Regions from separate parts of the Homo sapiens genome. Here region 2 is reported to be linked to region 1. Evidence: microRNA targets listed by miRTarBase, many of them from high-throughput screens and not tested one by one. Region 1 holds a microRNA gene; the other region holds the end of a gene's coding sequence.

What was found. The annotated mature microRNA hsa-miR-5690 reads UCAGCUACUACCUCUAUUAGG and lies in region 1 at 2,287-2,307, opposite strand. An mRNA with a match to its seed (bases 2 to 7 or 8) in the 3' UTR can be bound and repressed. Matches are read on the target gene's strand: a 7mer-m8 pairs with bases 2 to 8, a 7mer-A1 pairs with bases 2 to 7 and ends in A, and an 8mer does both.
Region 2: miRTarBase lists ZBTB8B as a target of hsa-miR-5690. Seed matches in the 3' UTR shown: 7mer-m8 at 2,087-2,093.

The regions. Positions count from the first base shown.
Region 1 is chr6:35,662,474-35,665,704 of GRCh38, forward strand. MIR5690 (microRNA 5690) reads right to left here and starts at 2,316; the gene lies at 2,244-2,316. The region is part of intron 1 of FKBP5 (FKBP prolyl isomerase 5); the gene reads right to left. RefSeq lists enhancers at 223-724, 725-1,224.
Region 2 is chr1:32,485,230-32,488,339 of GRCh38, reverse strand. It overlaps ZBTB8B (zinc finger and BTB domain containing 8B), which reads right to left. Exons shown (of 4, transcript NM_001145720.2): 4 at 1-3,110. The coding sequence ends at 2,922. Among named protein-coding and RNA genes, the nearest start is that of ZBTB8B, 22 kb to the right of the region's middle.

The DNA.
Region 1 (3,231 bases):
AGGTCGCACTATGTTGCCCAGGCTGTTCTTGAACTCCTGGGCTCAAGCGATCCTGCCACCTCAGCCTCCCAAAGTGCTGGGATTACAGATGTGAGCCATCACGCCTGGCTGTGTCCAAATATATTTCAACAAACTGCATCTCAAACTGGGTATACTAATATTTGGTGCCACTAGTAAGTATATATAAATATATAAGAGAACAAGGATTACCTAGCTATCATAATTACAGTAAATTTGTTTTGTTAATAGGAACTCATTTTAATTGTGCATTCATTTTTGCTGCTTTTGGCCCTTAGTTGTTTGAAAGCCAATAGTTTTCTAATTATACTATGAATCCTACACACCATGAATACCTACTGAATATGAAATGTCTGTAAGACCCTGTTCTAGGAGCTACAAAGAAAACTGAAATAAGTTAGCCCAAGGATTTTTTGTGAAGGCAAAGAAACATTTTAATTCCAAATAATTATTATTAGGTAGAAGAGAGCTACAAAGTGTTTCTGAGGGTCCCAAGGAGGCAGAAGATGGCAGTGTCTGAGCTGGATAGGCATACTTTCAACCGGCAAGGGTGTGGCAAGAGTAAAATCAAGGCTGGTAAAAGAACACAGCACGTTTCAAGCCTAAGCAGCTTAAGTGCAAAGTGGCTCCGGGTGGAAATGATGAGAGAGCAAGAGCACAAAGAGGACCCTCTAAAACAGAGCCAGTGACCATGTGAGCTGAGGGGGAGGGCTTCTCACAGGGCAAACGGTACAGAAAGACGCGAAGACACAAAGCATCATGACCCATCCAGGGAGCTGCATGTGATCCCACTTGGCTAAAGTGAAGGGTACATGTGGGAAAGAAGCAGATGATGCTAAATAAACAGGCAGAGGCCTGACTGTGAAGGACCTTGTGTGCCAAAGTAAAGTACGTGAACATTATTCCAAAGGCAACAGGGAACTGAGGCATTTTTAAGAAAAGAAATGACAAGCAGACTAGCTTTAAGAAAAAATTACTCTGGCACTCCAATGGTTTCCCATCTCACACAGGATAAAATCCAAAGTCCTTCTTATGCTTAATACCCTATACATGCTGATCACTCGCTATCTCTGAAATTATTTCTCCTTTTCCCTCACTCACTGCTCTGGCTACAGTGGCCTTCTTGCTGCCCCCTCCCATGTGCCCTTTCCTCAGTGCCTTTGCACTTGCTATCCCCACTACCTGGAACTCTTCCCTGGTTAGCTGCATAGCTCACTCCCTCACTCGCTTCAGGTCTGCCTTCATGTTCAAACCTTTTCTTATCAGAGTTGTTTTACTGTTACCGGAAATAAAAGAGCAAAAATCGACTATAATCAGCCCCACTATGTTTTCCTCCAGTGTATTTATAGTATTTGTATACTGCCTGTCTCTCCTTACTAGAATGTAAGCTCTATGATGGATCTCTTCAATAACCGTGTGACATTGAGATTGTTACTACTGACACGTCCAGACAGCAAATCTAATGGACGAGCTAAGTAATCTATCCAAGGATATACTTCTAGTGAACAGTGGAACCAGGGAGACTGACTCTGGAGCCTGCACTCTAACTATTTTACATACTGACTCCCCAGAAGTGTCACAGGTCTCTGACTCTGATTCTAAAGCATTTCCTGTGAACAGGCTCCATGCTGACAAGCACTAAGCCAGCAAAAATTCTGAATTCACAGTATGTTCTTCTAAAAAGATGGTGATTCTTACAATTTGTATTAGCCAAGTTTTAAAAGCCAGGGAATATTTTTTAAATAATCAATTAAAATGTACAAAGTATCTGGACTTTTACCTATCCAAAAATTAGCTGTTTTTTTTTTAGACCCACAGATATTCAAACAAGATGAAAGATTTTATGAACTAAAAGGAACACAGCATATGACACCAAAAACTACCCAAGACCCTTTTTCCGTTACCATATTCAATTTCAGGAATAAAACTCAACATCTTTAAAATAATCATCAAATTTTCTGACATGCCACTCCCGGAGGAAGAACAATGTGGTATCTACAGGAAAACATCCAGCAAATACAGTATCTCATGCACAGTAAAAGAATGAAAGGTAGGCTGCAGTAACATTTGTCTTTATTCTTTCCCCACTCCTGAAATTATTAAATTTCCTCTCTGCCTGGGCATTCTTTCATCCCATCTCCCATTACTATCAGTATCCTCTCCTTAAAATGCAGTTGTCAATCAACAGTTGTCCCCATCAACCACTTCATACCAGAACTCATCCACTCTTAATTTCAACTATTACCTCTATTAGTATAACTCCCAAATCCTAATAGAGGTAGTAGCTGAAATTAAAAGTGGCATAATTTCTCCCTCTTTCCTTCTCCAATCTTTGATTTCTCTCACTTCAGGACCCTTTTATTTCCTTATGTTTTTAAGGAAAATTAACTTTTTCAAAATTGGTCCCTTCTCCATTTATTTCATAATCTGTATTATCTGGCCATTCTCCTAGGTTTGCAACTTCAATATAATTTTTCTCCACTTAATCAATAGGACCGCCAACTATTCATTGTGTTTCTTATCTTACTTTCGACTCCATAGCTATCATCATATTTTGAGTTTTCTTCCTCTCCTTTGTGAATTACTACAGTTCTCCAGAGGACCTGCCTACCTCCAGACGGCTCACTCACTCCCACTCATTCTGTATACACTGCTAGTGAAGCCTTTCTGACACAGCACACCCACCACATTACTCTCTAATTCATGGACCTTAAATAGTGTTCCAACACAACAAATCTAAACTTCTCAAACCAGCACTCAGGGTCTTCTGCTCCTTTAGAATGTCACTAGTAAATGCTCCTCTTTTTTTTTTTTTTTAGAGGAGTCTCACTCTGTCACCAAGCTGGAGTGCAGTGGCGCGATCTCGGCTCACTGCAACCTCCGCCTCCCAGGTTCAAGCAATTCTCCTGCCTCAGCCTCCCGAGTAGCTGGGACTACAGGCGCGTGCCACCACACCCAGCTAATTTTTTTTGTATTTTTAGTAGAGATAGGGTTTCACTATGTTTGCCAGAATGGTCTCAATCTCTTGACTTCATGATCCGCCCGCCTCGGCCTCCCAAAGTGCTGGGATTATAGGCATGAGCCACCGTGCCTGGCCATAAATGTTTATCTTAAACATTCTAAAAAGATAAAAACCTAGAAACCCAACATTCTGATCTTCTTCATCTAAATCTGTACAATACACACTATGGGTCTGTAGAGGTCATAGTACAC
Region 2 (3,110 bases), not on the chromosome of region 1:
AAACACTGTTCCTGGCCAAGTAAATCTTCTACACATCCATTTAGGTTTCCTTTTTGCTGAGATCCCTCTTTTAAAATAACAGCAAATATATGTATACATTTTTGGAGACAGTTTCGCTCTTGTTGCCCAGGCTGGAGTGCAGTGGTGTGATGTCGGCTCACAGCAACCTCCGCCTCCTGGGTTCAAGCGATTCTCCTGCTTCAGCCTCCTGAGTAGCTGGAATTACAGGCATGCGCCACCATGCCTGGCTAATTTTGTATTTTTAGTAGAGACGGGGTTTCTCCATGTTGGCCAGGCTGGTCTTGAACTCCCGACCTCAGGTGATCCACCTGCCTTGGCCTCCCAAAGTGTTGGGATTACAGGCGTGAGCCACTGCGCCTGGCCACAGCTAGTATTTTTATTTCAGATAAGACAAATATCTCTGGTCCCTGATAATTTTCAATGAGTAACTCTTGATCTAGAATATTTTTCTTTTATTTATTTATTTTATTATTATTTTTTTGAGACAAGGTCTCACACTGTTGCCCAGGCTGGAGTGGAGTGGCACGATTCCAGCTCACTGCAACCTTTTCCAGGCTCAAGTGTTCCTCTCGCCACAGCCTCCTGAGTAGCTGGGATTACAGGCACATGCCACCACTCCTGACTAATTTTTGTATTTTTGCTAGAGACGGGGTTTCGCCATGTTGGTCAGGCTGGTATCGAACTCCTGACCTCAAGTGTTCCATCTGCCTTGGCCTCCCAAAGTGCTGGGATTATAGGCGTGAGCCACCGCACACAGCCAAGAATGATATTTATCGAACTACCTGTGATAAGAGAAGTTTTAAATTTTCCATTCTACTGCAGACCAATACGTGGTCCTGCTGTACAGGCTGGTATCCAACCTCTGCACCATGTGGCCCTCTAGCTGACCAGAACTGAACTGGTCCATACCTCACTCAAGAAGACAAAGCCATGAGTCACAGCAATGTCAAAGTGTTATCAACATTTCTATATGTGTATTCTTAATTTCTGACTTTCCTTGTAGCAGACTGGTAGAAAACAGTTTACAGAACAGGGCCTCTCTGTGGGCCAGAGTTTGAGTTGCACTGTTCCAGTTTTAACTACTATTGAGAAGTACGACTTAAACACCTGTCTAATGCTTTGGCTAACATTTACAAGCCAATTTATAATGTTTTTGACTTTTTTGTTGTTCAAGAGGTAGAAATAAAAGTGACTTTTACCACCTTTTGAAAGACAACTACACTTAAAGGAAGACAAGAAGATTTCTTTTAAAATCCATTTTGGATATTTTAACATAAGACAAAATTATGGAAATTGCCTTCAATTACATTCCGAATTCCTAACACTGCCTGCCCTTTAGCCCTTTAAAGAGTTCAGCCTCTTTTGTTACAATAATTGTGTGGCTGGAAAGTGGGCGAAAGGTAGACTGCTTTTAAAAACCTGTTCTGCTACTAACCTTCCCTTTCCCTCATGAAGATCTTTTAAAAGATGAACATTTTAGAAATGTTACTTGGCATTATGGGCTTATACTTTCCCTCCAATTAAAGTTCTAGGCAAGGAGGTAGAAGGCAGGACTCAACTCCAAAGGCCGGACTCGGACATGGACCAAATTGAGGACTAGCTAAAACAGGGCGGTGGTGGGAGGGTGGTGCAGGAAGCAGATTTCCATAAGAAACACTTATCACTGTGCCATGTCAATTACCATTGCCATGGCAACACCTGGAAGTCACTGCCCCTTATCATGGCAACCACCCAGCGGCTTGGAAGTTACCACCATTTTCCTAAATATTGCTGCATAATCTGCCCCTTAATTTGCATGTAACTAAAAGTGGGTATAAATATAAGTGCCGACCTGCCTCTGAGCTACTACTCTGGGCACACTGCCTATGGTGTAGCCCTGCTCCACGAGGAGCGGCCCCTTAGCTGCTGTTGGGCACTGCTGCTTCAATACAAGCTGCTGTCTAACACCACTGGCTTGCCCTTGAATTCTTTCCTGGGTGAAGCCAAGAACTCCTCTGGGCTAAGCCCCAATTTTTGGGCTCACCTGCCCTACATCAGCATAAACTAAGTAAAAGAATGCCAGAGGCAGCTACATTTCCAAGTTACACAGCTCCAGCTTTTGGAAATTGCTGGAAAAAGTAGGGGAGCATTTTGAGTTTTGCCCAAATGAGTTGTTTTATGATAACAGAACAGGTTGTATGTGTAGAATCGTCAAATGCCAAACCAGACAGGGAAACCATCCAGACCTGGGGTCATAGCCTCCCTTCTCAGGGCTAACTTAAAATTTAATTCAACTGGGCAAGTCAGGATGCCATAATGAGCCTTTCAGATCATTCCCATGTTCGTCTGCCCATAAGTATTCCAAGCCTTTAAAATTGTTCTAGATTTAGGGAGTACCTTTTATGATCATGTAGCCAGACCGCCCTGCCTGCTTTATATCAATGAAGGTTTCTCTTTAATACTTTGCCAGAAAATTTAATGTGGAATTCATTAGGAAAGGCTTGGCAAAGGTAAACTTGATCCCAAAACTTAATGGTTTTTAGAGAAAGAGGATGATAACAAAGGAATGCAGAGGACTGAATCAATATAAAAACAAGCCTGGAGATTTTCTTATCTTTCTCCTAACCAGAGTTTGGACACACAGCAAGAAAAACAGGAGACCTCAGGGCCTGCTTTGACTCACTCAGAATTAAGGAGTGGCCAGCAAAGCCCTCAGAAACCAAGGGCACCACACAAAAAGGTTATCTGTCCTTTGAGTCACAAAATCCAACCTCTATCAGATAGTCTAATAAAAATGCACATATAATAACAGTGAAAAAATGTTCCTCTCAGGGTTCCACAAAATTGGACAAATGGTATCTTTCAACAACAGAACGAGCACTAACAAGTTTTAAAACCTCCTCTTCCCCACCAATTTATTGCTACGTAAGTGTCTCTCGGTCTGATAAGTTAGGCTGAATTTGTGGTTTGTCATCAGAATCATCTCCAGCAGGGTCATTTTCCTCACCCGACTCCACATAGATTGGCCAGTCATTGTCTGTGTCGCTCTTTTCTTGGCTTTCAGATGAAGCCTCCACCAAGCTAAGGTTGATGGGCATCAAATCATCATC